4 linked regions of the Homo sapiens genome follow. The protein of the gene in region 1 purifies or fractionates together with the protein of each later gene. This does not show direct contact. Each region holds a gene or a part of one and is shown in the gene's direction. Other genes may lie near its edges.

Region 1 (3,684 bases):
ACTCATAGATACTCTTGAGATGCATTAAGAACTTGTTAATCTTAATCATTAAGCTAATGCTATTAATGTGATGGCATTTACTATAAAACCTTAGGAAGTCTAAGAGAAAGTCAATCAAATGACCTATTTACACACCCAAAACAAGAAATATATTTAAAATAAATATATTAATAAATTAATATATTTAATATTTAAATATAATAGACATAAGATTAGCTACCTTTGAATTTAAGGTTAACCTAGCCCTATTCTTTAATTAACACACTATTAAGAAACGGTTTATATAATTGTTACACCTTTGCAAACACTTCAAAATGAGCATTCAATGTCAATGCTTGCCCAAATGATTTAAAATAGTTCTAAGGGACTTTGGAGCCAATATTTCAAAATGAAGAAATCAGACTGTTTGTCAGCGCTTTCAATGTGACATACTTTGAAATGGTATGCTTTTACATGTAATAGCCTGGTTTCTGCCAATTATGCATCTGTAGTATCTGTACCTTATATAATAATTATTGCAGCATCCTCTAGGGTAGAATTTGTGACCAGCTCAGATAAATTTTAAATAATTTTTTAAGAGTGTAGAGTTACGCCATTCCCGAAGACTGCAAAAGGGATATCCCAGCTATCCAGGGAACCAGAAGCAACATTTAAGCTGTTCTCTCTGGCTCTAGTTTCCTTTCCCTGCCCACTCCTCATTAAAAAAAAATAAGTTAACTACCAATATGAAGGAGAACGAGGAGAGGAATTTTTAGATTTCCGCCTTACAATTCATACAGACTGTTTTATTTGAATGAGTGAAATGTACCAGTCAGAACATCAAGATGACACGTTTTATACAGAAGTCAGTTGTACTGTATCCGAAATCCATCTATTGTAATAATACGTAAGCATCATTACAGACTTATAGATGGGAGGTTTCTCATGAACAAATAAAAAAGGGGAAAGTTGCCAAATTGCAAAGAATTCTTCACATATTTATTTACATTTTTCTCTCTTACATAATCTAAGAGTAGGTAATTGTTTCAATATTGCAAGCAATCCTCTGCAGTATATTTTGAGGGTTAAAAAGATCACACACTGAGCTTCAGACATTTTAATCAAGTTTCACAAGTTTTAACTCATGTAAAATGAGAACTAATTTCTTATGGAAAACACGGGGTTCAGTTCAGGGAAAGTAAACATCCACTTGTCTGCTCTGATGATCAGACCATACCTGGGGTATTAGGTTCAGTTCTAAATGCCCTGTTTTTAAGAGGCACATTCACATATGAAACACATTCTCAGAACAGTCAGGATACCAAAACAAAGTTATGTGATGGAGGTTTAAGTTTGGGGATGATCTGCCTGAAGAAGAGTAGCCTTCCCCTGATAACCAGTTTTTAAGCTTTTGAAGAGCTGTTTTTCAGGAAAAAAGCTTTTGAAGGCTATTTTTTTTTGAAGAGCTTTTTTTTTTTTTTTTTTTTTTTTTTTTTTTGGTGAAATGGAGTGTTGCTCTGTCACCCAGGCTGGAGTGCAGTGGCGCGATCTCTGCTCACTGCAACCTCCACCTCCCAGGTTCAAGCAATTCTCTGCCTCAGCATCCCGAGTAGCTGGGATTACAGGCATTCACCATCACACCTGGCTAATTTTTGTATTTTTAGTAGAGACAGTGTTTCACCATCTTGGCCAGCCTGGTCTTCAACTCCTGACCTCATGATCCACCCACCTTAGCCTCCCAAAGTGCTGGGATTACAGGTGTGAGCCACCGCGCCTGGCCAGAAAAGCTGGGTTTTTTTGTTTGTTTTTTGTTTTTGAAGAGCTGGTCTCTGTCGCTCCTGAGAGCCTATATCCAACTCAATGGCTAGAGGTTATAGAAGGCAAATTGTCCCTGGACATAAGGACAGGCCTCCAAACAATCAGAGCTGCCCAATGTGGCTCTGGATGCTTCCTGAAGAGGTGGCCTGCCCATCTTCAGAAATATTCTGTCAAAGGTCTCCATTTTGTGTTGGAGAGCATACTAGATGGGTGTTTTCTTCCGTGAGCTTAGGATTCTCTCGCCTGAGTTCATCTTCAACCATCTCATTGTAATTTTCTATTACTAGGTTTCCCTGTGGTCTCTGCTAGTGACTCTGGTGGTCCTTTTCATAATGACCGGCACTATGTTAGGACCTGAACTGCTGGCAAGTATCCCTGCAGCTGTTTATGTGATAGCAATTTTTATGCCTTTGGCAGGCTACGCTTCAGGTTATGGTTTAGCTACTCTCTTCCATCTTCCACCCAACTGCAAGAGGACTGTATGTCTGGAAACAGGTAGTCAGAATGTGCAGCTCTGTACAGCCATTCTAAAACTGGCCTTTCCACCGCAATTCATAGGAAGCATGTACATGTTTCCTTTGCTGTATGCACTTTTCCAGTCTGCAGAAGCGGGGATTTTTGTTTTAATCTATAAAATGTATGGAAGTGAAATGTTGCACAAGCGAGATCCTCTAGATGAAGATGAAGATACAGATATTTCTTATAAAAAACTAAAAGAAGAGGAAATGGCAGACACTTCCTATGGCACAGTGAAAGCAGAAAATATAATAATGATGGAAACCGCTCAGACTTCTCTCTAAATGTGGAGATACACAGGAGCTTCTATCTTGCTGAAATATTGCTTCATATTTATAGCCTGTGGTAGTGCACATGGTTAACATAAAAGATAACACTGGTTCACATCATACATGTAACAATTCTGATCTTTTTAAGGTTCACTGGTGTATTAACCAAACGTTGTCACAAATTACAAATCAATGCTGTAATATAATTTGCACCTGGAATGGCTAACGTGAAGCCTGAATTAAATGTGGTTTTTAGTTTTTACCATCACCAATTTCTATGACTGTTGCAAATACAGAATCTATTAGAAAACAGGGTCTTGGAAATGTAGAATTTTGGCGCACTATGAGGAAAAACAAGCTATCTTTGTAAAGCATAATTGAGTTTAATGTAATTGTTGTAAAAAAAAAAGTGTGCTTGCTCTACTTAAAATTCCTCACAATGTTGAATTTTGACCTGTATTCAGAAGAATTCCAAAACAGGTCAGTTAAATAAGGAAATATAGTATTTGTCAAACCAGTATCAGAGAAAAGTTACATTAATGTATTTGATTACTTGATCTGGTATCTACTTATTAATGAATAATCAACATTTTTCTAGTGGACAAGCCATGTTCTTTTCGACTGGTCTTCTGCATTTATGTAAACACACCCCAAATCAATTTATCTTTTGTAGGAATGATTTGGTTGGGAAATTTTTCAGAACCGCTCTGGAGCAGAACAAAACGGTACCTCCCGGTCACCACTGGGACTGGGGGAAGGGACACGCTCCAGGGGAGAAAACAATTCGCCTAGATGAAGATCCCTGGGTGGTTCTCCATGCACTCGCCGAGGGGGCTCAGTGGGTAGCCTCTTAGAGCAGCTCTGAGAATAAACTTATCATCTGAGTTAACGGGTAATAGACCCAGAACAGTTCCCAAACCTTGGCACTTTCGCTCACTTAGCCAGAGGCACCCGGCCTGGCCTCGGCTTCCCGGTGAGGGAGCGGGGGTGGGGGGGATGCGCAGGCACCTGGAACAATCAGGGCACCGGGAGAAGCCGGCTCAGCTGATGCCGGTGATGAGTTTCTCTCATTGAAATCCTCCTCACCTCGGGCGCCTTGGTT
Region 2 (3,007 bases), on another chromosome or scaffold:
TGAGATTACAGGTGTGAGCCACCATGCCCAGCCAAAATGTGCTTTTTAAACGTTGCTGCTAAGATATTACATTTGATAGCTTGGTTTTTCTCAGTGGCCTGAAAATAGTTGATGTAATTAAAGTAACGAGAGTTCAATTGGAACCTCAGTCTCTCTTTTTATTTAAAGAAACAAGATTTGAGATTCTGGCAGCTGCATTGCCTCTTCATGGAAGAGAACTTTTTATTTCAAGGTGGCTGTTGAGCCAGGCCTAATGTAGACTATGCCCCTGGAGTTCGCTGGGTTTTGGAAATGTTTTGCTTATTCATAATGTAGTATTTTCTAAATCATTTAATCCCCCTAATTCTCAAATATGAATGTTGAATAATAGACTGATTTCTGAACTGCCAAAGGAAAATAACCATGATTTGCTGCTCAGAGTTTTAAAAACTGCTTTTCTTTTTCTTAGGTCCAGATAACTCTCACCTCACATGACTGTGGTGAACTGACCAAAAAAGATGTGAAGCTGGCCAAGTTTATTGAAAAAGCAGCTGCTTCTGTGTGATTTCTTCCAAAATACATGTAAAATCTTGTACACATCTTAGCTGCAATGTATGTTGAAGGAAATTTATGTGAACAAATAGAGTTGTTCTTTTTCTCTTTTTTTTAAGACAGAGTGTTGCTCTGTCGCCCAGGCCAGAGTGCAGTGGTATGATCTCGGCTCACTGTAACCTCCGCCTCCCAGGTTCAGGTGATTCTCCTGCCTCAGCCTCCTGAGTAGCTGGGATTACAAGCACGTGTCACCACGCCTGGCTAATTTTTGTATTTTTAGTATAGACAGGGTTTTACCACGTTGGTCAGGCTGGTCTCGAACTCCTGACCTCGTGATCCGCCTGCCTCAGCCTCCCAAAGTGCTGGGATTACAGGCATGAGCCACCATGCCTGGCTGTTGAATTGTTCTTAAGGCATCATATCTAGAAGCAAAGAAAAAAGAAAAATAACAATTTAAGTTGTGTAAATTGTTTGCCTTTATATATTACATTTGGTAAAATCAGTGCTTAAATACGCAATGATTTAAACTGGAACCTGAGGTATTTTTCATGCTATCTAATCATATACCTAAGATAAACCAACCCAGTTACTTATATTAATAATATTCAGAAAGAGAAGTGGCTTTTTTTTTTTTTTGAGACGGAGTCTTGCTCTGTCACCAGGCTGGAGTGCAGTGGCGGGATCTCGGCTCACTGCAACCTCTGCCTCCCAGGTTCAAATGATTCTCCTGCCACAGCCTCCCGAGTAGCTGGGACTATAGGCACGTGCCACTGCGCCTAGCTAATTTTTGTATTTTTAGTAGAGATGGGGTTTCATTATGTTGGCCAGGATGGTCTCGATCTACTGACCTCGTGATCCACCTGCCTCCACCTCCGAAAGTGTTGGGATCACAGGCATGAGCCACCGCGCTTGGCCAGAAGTGGCATTCTTAAATTCAAGAAATTGGGATGGGGAGTATTCACACATTTTATAACCCAGAAATTCAAGCAATTCTGGTGACTACAAATGCATTGTTTTGGAGAATAGTTGTAAGGTGGAAAAAGAATTAGGAACTCGACAGATAGTGAGTTTTAACTTTAAATAACAATTCTTCTTTTGTTTTGTTTTGTTTGAGACGGGGTCTCGCTCTGCTGCCCAGGCTGGAGTGCAGTGGCAGGATCACGGTTTATTGCAGCCTTAACCTCCTGGGCTCAAGCAGTTCTCCCTCCTCAGCCTCCAGAGTAGCTGGGACTATAGGCAAGTGCCACCACGCCTGACTAATTTTTAAATTTTTTGTAGAGATGGGGTCTCCCATCTTGCCCAGGCTGGCCTTGAACTCTTGGGCTCAAGCAAGCCTCCCACCTCTGCCTCCCAAAGTCCAAGGATTACAGGTGTGAGCCATTGCCCCCAGCCAGTATAACAGTTTGTGTGTGTGTGTGTGTGTGTGTGTGTGTGTGTGTTTGACACGGGGTCTCATTCTGTTGCCCAGGCAGTAGTGTAGTGGTGCGACCATGGCTCACTGTAGTCTTGACTTCTCAGGCTCAAGTGATCCTCTCACCTCAGCCTCCTGAGTAGCAGCGGTTACAGGCATGCATCACCACACCTGGCTTATTTTTAAAACTTTTTTGTGGAGACAGGGTCTTACTATGTTGCCATGGCTGGTCTAGAACTTCTGGGCTCGAGTAATCCTCCTGCCTTGGCCTCTCAAAATGTTGGGATTACAGGTGTGAGCCACTGTGTCATAACAATTATTTTAAAATTTTTATTTATTTATTTTTAATAATTATACAAGATGGAGTCTCACTATGTTGCCCAGGCTGGTCTTGAATGCCTGGGCTCAAATGATCTTCCTGCCTTGACCCCCCAAAGTGCTGGGATTACAGGCGTGAGCCACTGCGCCTGGCCTATAACAATTCTTATGAAGCTAAAGTTGATTTGGATTTTAGCTGCCGTTACTACTTATATAATTAATTAGATTAAACAAGTCACAAAAATTGGATGAGCTATCTTGGTGTGTTTTCTTTACTTTTCTCTTTCAACAGAGAGTTGAAGGAGAGGACAAGTGTCTTGTCTGTGGCTTCCAGGAATGTGTGGCAATATAAGATTTACTGTTACAGCAGCCAACTCACCAAGTCATTATTTGACTTACTGAGTTAAGGAGGAACTAAGGGTCATTTTCCCCCCATCATTTGCATGTTTTGACTCCTGAACTGAGGGTCTACGGCCACTGAAGCTAGAAGCTAGAAGGGTGTTAATCAGTAGTGAGCTCTACTTACTCCATGTGTCACTGACAGATGTAAAAAGGAATATCAAGTAATCTATTATTTAAAAATTGTAATAAGAGTGTTTTTTGAAGGAATTCAGGAATGTACTACTAACGAGATTATGATGCAGGTATATCCATCCATGAAGCATTTGTTAGTCCCTTGAAGCATCATGGTAGTGGAATTTAACATGGATCATCTTTGTAAACCCACCTCTCTTTAGGGGCCAGAGA
Region 3 (2,753 bases), on another chromosome or scaffold:
TGGCTGGAGAGGGGGGTCTCCAGCAGCTCAGCGGAGACAGACACAGCCGCCTCCAGTCACCCCACAGGGCCTGAACCTGCCTCCTCCTCCGAGCAGGCTACGCCGTGGGCTGGGGTCCCATCACCTGGCTGCTCATGTCTGAGGTCCTGCCCCTGCGTGCCCGTGGCGTGGCCTCAGGGCTCTGCGTGCTGGCCAGCTGGCTCACCGCCTTCGTCCTCACCAAGTCCTTCCTGCCAGTGGTGGTGAGTGTTCAGCCCCAGGCCCCAGGCCCCTAGGCCCTCTCTGACTGGCCAGGACCCTTCTCAGTGCCAGGGGCTGTGCCAAGGCCTGCTGTCAGGACCCTAACTCTCAGTGACCCTAGGAGATGAGCACACACCCCCTGAACTCAGAGACCCCAGAGTGGTCACGTGATAGCCTAGCAAACGCTCTTCATTATAAGAAACAGGAACGGGCGTAGGCAACTGTTCTGGGAAGTCAGGTTACCTCCTGGGCCAGGGCAGGACATGGCCCAGGACCCTGCCAGGGGCCCCGGAAGCCACCTCCCCACCGTGCCTCATCTCCCGCCCTCCTGGGCGCTGGGTCTCAGCAGCAGCCACACTCCCCCCTCAACCCCACCCACTCCCCCTGCCTCCTGGTTCAAAACTACGGGCCCTGTGACCAGCCAGAATCTGTGAGGCCCAGAGTAAGTTCCCATGAGGGAGAAGCTGGCTAGGGCAGCCTAGGCCAGCGCCTAAGCTGTCCCTGCAGTGGTCAGGGCAGGGGGGTTGGGGGAGGGCAGGCAACCCAGAGTGAGTCCATCAGCCTAGAGGGTCCAAGAAGAACCTGCGTGCCCACCAGGCTGCAGGGCGGGCCTCCTGCAGGCCGCGGCATGGAACAGCTGGGATGCCAGCGCTGGGTAGGGGGTGTGGAGGGGGTACCTGAGCTGACGCCAGAGGGCCCAGCCCCTGAGGAAGGCCGAGGGGCAGACGGGATGCAGACTTCAAGGGCTACTTCGGATTTGTCCTGGGGACAGTGGGGGAGCCCTGGTGTGGGGGGGCGGTCTCTGAACACAGGAAGGACCAGATGAAGGCCCCACAGGGCTGGTCACTACCAGCAGCGCCCACGAGCTCCTCTGGGGCAGGAGGACCCTGGAGCTTCTCCCTGTGACCCGGCCCCGCTCTTCACCCGCAGAGCACCTTCGGCCTCCAGGTGCCTTTCTTCTTCTTCGCGGCCATCTGCTTGGTGAGCCTGGTGTTCACAGGCTGCTGTGTGCCCGAGACCAAGGGACGGTCCCTGGAGCAGATCGAGTCCTTCTTCCGCACGGGGAGAAGGTCCTTCTTGCGCTAGGTCAAGGTCCCCGCCTGGAGGGGGCCAAACCCCCAGTGGCTGGGCCTCTGTGTTGGCTACAAACCTGCACCCTGGGACCAAGAGGCAGCAGTCATCCCTGCCACCAGCCAGAGCACAGGAAGAGCAGTGTGATGGGGCCTCAGCAGCGGGTGCCCCTGGCTCGGGACAGGTAGCACTGCTGTCCAGCCACAGCCCCAGCCCAGGCAGCCCACAGTGCTGCACGTAGCCATGGGCCGCAGGAGTGCATACAACCCTGCATCCAGGGACACGGCCCTGCTGGGTGACCTCAGGCCTAGTCCCTTTCCCTTGCGTGAAGGACACGCCCCACAGAAGGCTACGGGGAGGACTGAGAGGACAGGGCTGGAGGCAGCCAAGTAACGTAGTCATATCATCGCGCTCTGATCTGGTGGCATCTGGCTGTGCAAGGAAGACCCGGCTTTGCCCTCACAAGTCTTATGGGCACCACAGGGAACATCCTGGACTTAAAAAGCCAGGGCAGGCCGGGCACAGTGGCTCACGCCTGTAATCCCAGCACTTTGGGAGGCCAAAGCAGGTGGATTACCCAAGGCCAGGAGTTCAAGACCAGCCTGGCCAACATGGTGAAACCCCGTCTCTACTAAAAAATACAAAAAAGCTGGGTGTGGTGGCACACACCCGTAGTTCCAGCTACTTGGGAGGCTGAGGCAGCATTGCTTGAACCCGGGAGGTGGAGGCTGCAATGAGCTGAGATCATGCCATTGCACTCCAGCCTGGGCAACGAGAGTGAAACTCCGTCCCCACCCCCTGCCAAAAAAAAAAAAAAAAAAGCCAGGGCAAAGGACCTGGCGTGGCCACTTCCTCCTGCCCCAGCCCAACCTCTGGGAACAGGCAGCTCCTATCTGCAAACTGTGTTCACCCTTTTGTAAAAATAAAGGAACTGGACCTGTAGTCCTAGCGAGGAAAGAGTGGGGTCTACTCCAGGAGCCCCCACAGCAGCCAGGCTAGACCCGAACCAGCCAAGGTTGCCAGGGCCACTGACTGCTGATCCATAGCAAAAGCAGGGCAGGGAAAAGGCTGCAGTGAGGGGAAGCCCACTGCGAGGCCCACCCTTAACAGGCTCTTTCTAGCTGTGTGACCTTGGGCAGGTCACTTTCCTTGTCTGGGATGCTGGGGGCAGCCTCGGGACAGGACCTGTAGTTATTTCCTGGGCCAGCGGCTCCTGCCTGGCTTCCACACTCACACACAGGCACCAAGGCAGAAGGGAGCAGAGGGCAGGCACGCGAGCCACGGCCACGCTTTATTGCTTAAGACGCACACAGAACACAGAGGAACAAACAAGGAGGAAAGGGCGCCACACACAGCCCAGACCAGGCAGGAGCGGCCCAGCCGCCGGAAGAGACGTTCCTTGCAAGGCAGGGCCCCTGCTGGACAGCACGCCCCCTGGGCGA
Region 4 (3,500 bases), on another chromosome or scaffold:
TGGCCCACAGACCCTGAGGTGTTTCCTTGGTGGCTCTTCACAGAATGTTTGCTGCCCCTAGTATAGAGGGTAGAGCCTCCTGGGTAGGGCTGTCCTGTGGCTCACTGTTTTTTGTAGGCCAGGTACCCCCTTGACACCTGACATCTGCCTCAGTCCCCTCACAGTTCAGCCTTCAAACTTGAGTCCTCTGTGTCATATGCCTAGACCCCCCACTTCTGAGGAGAAAGCCTCAGCTTTCTCCTTTCACGATCCCTTCTCTCTCGGTGAATGGCCAGTGGGTTGGGCTCTCTTGCCCCCACCCATGTTGGCATTGCTTGCCTTTTAGGTACCCATGGGACGGCTCCTGTTTCTCCCATTCTGAGAGCATCTGCTTATAATTCTAGGGCCTGTGTTTGGAAGCAAAGATAACTTCCACGGCTTAGCCATCTTCCTGGACACCTACCCCAATGATGAGACCACTGAGGTAGGCCCCTGCTCTATCCTGCTGAGCAGGAAAGGAAGGACTGGGCAGTCGGCTAGAGGAGGGGGCCCTGGGACTTCCATGGTCCCAGCACAAGAGGAGCCTCCAGGGATTGGGGTGGTGGGTGCCCCTGCTCGCCCCACAGGCTGGGCTGCTTGTGGAGTAACCGATGTCTTGGTCCCAGCGCGTGTTCCCGTACATCTCGGTGATGGTGAACAATGGCTCCCTGTCCTACGACCACAGCAAGGATGGGCGCTGGACCGAGCTGGCGGGCTGCACGGCTGACTTCCGCAACCGCGATCACGACACCTTCCTGGCTGTGCGCTACTCCCGGGGCCGTCTGACGGTGAGCAGGCTAGGCGGTGGGGGTGGCAGCTGGTGGCCCTGTGCTGGTCCCACAGAGGCTCAGGAGGGCAGGCTGCTGTCCTGCGAGGTGCTTAGCGTGCTGGGCCCTGCAGGTGATGACCGACCTGGAGGACAAGAACGAGTGGAAGAACTGCATTGACATCACGGGAGTGCGCCTGCCCACCGGCTACTACTTCGGGGCCTCCGCCGGCACCGGCGACCTGTCTGGTGAGTGGGCCGGGCCAGGCGTTGGTTCCCAGCCCAGCTCACCCTGAGGGACTGGGAGCTTTCCATGCAGTTGATTGCCTGCCTTCATGTGGTTTCTGAGCTCACCTGGCTGTGTTCCTCCTCCTCCTTTCTTCTGTAAATGGCCTGTCCGGGCCTCAGTTCCTGTGGTTTCTGGGCTCACCTGGCTGTGTTCCTCCTCCTCCTTTCTTCTGTAAATGGCCTGTCCGGGCCTCAGTTCCTGTGGTTTCTGAGCTCACCTGGCTGTGTTCCTCCTCCTCCTTTCTTCTGTAAATGGCCTGTCCGGGCCTCAGGCCTTGAACGGTCCCTTGGCAACCTTCCCCATCAACAGGAGGCAGCGGGTCAGTTAGATTTGGGCAATGTAGATTCCCAGATTTATCTCCAGCCCAGACCGCTCTGGACCTGCTCAGCCCTTGTGCCCACAGCTGAGGCCACATCTTGCCCATCGGGATGTCAGTGGCACCTGTGCCCCTCTATTTGCTTGCTGTCTTTCCGGACCCTTCTTTCTCTCACATGGCACCTCTGGTCCATCAACAGTCCCTGTGGCTTTATTTTCACAGCACGTCTCACCACTTCCCTCCCCTCCCTGACTACCTGGCGGCTTCAGGCCACCAGTGTCTCTCACAGGAGTCTCCCAAGTGGTCCCCTCCTTCACCAGCCCCCAACAGTCTCTCGTGAGCACAGCAGCCGTGTAATCGCCTTCAGTAATCGCCTTCAGCCCGTGTGAGGCCTCCTGCTGCTCTGCGCAGAGCTCTGCAGGGGGCGCCAGGGCCTCTGTGCCAGCCCTGCCACCTCTGGCTCCCTGCTCACTGCTCCCCCTGCCTACTGTGGCTTCCAGCTGCTGCCTGGATGCGCCTGTGCCCTCCTGCCCCGGCTGTTTCACCCTTGTCTCCTAGGGCCTTGCTCAGATGTTACCTCCTCAGTGCGGCCTTCCCTGATGCCCTCGTGGAATGTCGTGCCCCCTCCTGTGTCCCCAGCCCACTCCCCAGCATCTTTGCTGGCTTTATTTTTCTTCATAATATTTACCATCTTTGAGTCTACCGAGTAATTAATTTTATTGTCTCTGGCCCTCCTGCTCAATTGTAAGCTCTATAAATGGCTGTTTGGCCCAGGGCAGGTGCTCAGCGAGCACTGGGGTGCCTCTAACCTGCTCAGGCCTCACTGGTCACCAGGCCGTGGTGGCCCTTGGCTGTGGTTCTCGGTTTCTCTTTGGGGCCCTGAGCAGGTGCCAGGCCCAGGGCCAGCTCCTGACCAGAACTGGCACGTGACACGGGGGACCTGACATGGGCGGTTTATCCTCAGGATGACCCATTCCAGGGCCTGTAGTCTGCCCACTGCCCAGGAGCCTCCTCTCTCAGCATGGAAGTGCTTGGGTCCGCTCAGACCCCAGAACATCCATTGTTTGGGGGTTTTTCAGTCACATACCCAGCAGAGGAGAGAGGTCTGGTAAGCACCCTTCCTGCCAACCAGCTTTCATCATTTCCAGCTCGCGCCTGGCTGGTTTCCCTCCTGCCCCGGGTTGCCTGGAACTTCATCACACTGTTTCAGCCCTTGTCTTTGGAGGGTTCTTGATAGGAGCAGAGCAGCACCAGTGCTGTGGCCGGTGGCAGCTCTCACAGCTGTTGGGAGAGCCCAGCACAGAGTGGAGGAGGCACCATGAGGGGAGCCGTGTCTGACCACTGGTCAGGGGTCATCAGTGCCAGGCACCTTACGGGTGATGTCACCTGATGTATTTTTAGGCAGATGGCCATCTCGTTCCCTTTTTACTCAACCATTGGGAGTTTGAAAACTGAAAGGATTTTTCCTAAGATACGAGCAGGAAGCAGCAGAGCCCAGATGGGAACTGGGGCCTGACTCCAGGGCCGGTCCTTGTCCTGCAGGGCCGCTCGCCGTCTCCAAGGGCTGTGCATGCTCGGCTCTCACACTGTGTGCCTGGCCGAGCTCTTGCTCATTAGGTCCCCCCTTGGCTCCAGAGATTCCTGCTCCCTTCAACAAGGCCTTTCCTCAGATTCCAGTCCCAGGCTGACCAGGACCCACGTGTCGGCTTTGAGCCTCAGCCTCCTCATCTCTACAATTGGGTGATCCATCAGCGTCAAGCCAGGGCTCTTCCCTGTGCATGCCATTGGACAGAGCCTTTCCCCAGTCTCCTCAGGCACAGCTGCTGACCTGCGTTAGGCTCAGGCCCTTAGCTGGTTGCCGAGTTGTTCCCCTGCAGCCTGTATGTGGGTCTCTGTGGCAAGAATGTCTGGTGGCTCCTGCCCTTGGGACCTCAGCCTTCTCAGCCAGTCACACAGCGACTGTTGGTCTTTCCCGGGTCTGTTTTTGAGCACTTATTCTGCAGGCAGGCCATCTTCTGTGTGGTGTAGACCCTTCTCATGTACTTGCCATGGCAACCACACAGATGGAGATCATCACTCCTCTACATGTGCGGAACATGAGCCTCAAAGAG

What was found. The genes of interacting proteins can lie anywhere in the genome.
Region 2: the proteins of SLC10A4 (region 1) and PCBD2 purify together in Homo sapiens (affinity purification with mass spectrometry; one large-scale study listed by BioGRID and IntAct). This does not show direct contact.
Region 3: the proteins of SLC10A4 (region 1) and SLC2A6 purify together in Homo sapiens (affinity purification with mass spectrometry; one large-scale study listed by BioGRID and IntAct). This does not show direct contact.
Region 4: the proteins of SLC10A4 (region 1) and LMAN2 purify together in Homo sapiens (affinity purification with mass spectrometry; one large-scale study listed by BioGRID and IntAct). This does not show direct contact.

The regions. Positions count from the first base shown.
Region 1 is NC_000004.12:48,486,343-48,490,026, forward strand, and holds the end of SLC10A4 (sodium/bile acid cotransporter 4), read left to right. Parts: intron 1-2,084; coding exon 2,085-2,597; 3' UTR 2,598-3,184; downstream 3,185-3,684. UniProt on the Homo sapiens protein: Transporter for bile acids.
Region 2 is NC_000005.10:134,960,138-134,963,144, forward strand, and holds the end of PCBD2 (pterin-4-alpha-carbinolamine dehydratase 2), read left to right. Parts: intron 1-448; coding exon 449-544; 3' UTR 545-2,507; downstream 2,508-3,007.
Region 3 is NC_000009.12:133,470,594-133,473,346, reverse strand, and holds the end of SLC2A6 (solute carrier family 2, facilitated glucose transporter member 6), read left to right. Parts: intron 1-96; coding exon 97-242; intron 243-1,170; coding exon 1,171-1,326; 3' UTR 1,327-2,253; downstream 2,254-2,753. UniProt on the Homo sapiens protein: Probable sugar transporter that acts as a regulator of glycolysis in macrophages. Does not transport glucose.
Region 4 is NC_000005.10:177,334,669-177,338,168, reverse strand, and holds part of LMAN2 (vesicular integral-membrane protein VIP36 precursor), read left to right. Parts: intron 1-383; coding exon 384-463; intron 464-644; coding exon 645-806; intron 807-918; coding exon 919-1,033; intron 1,034-3,500. UniProt on the Homo sapiens protein: Plays a role as an intracellular lectin in the early secretory pathway. Interacts with N-acetyl-D-galactosamine and high-mannose type glycans and may also bind to O-linked glycans.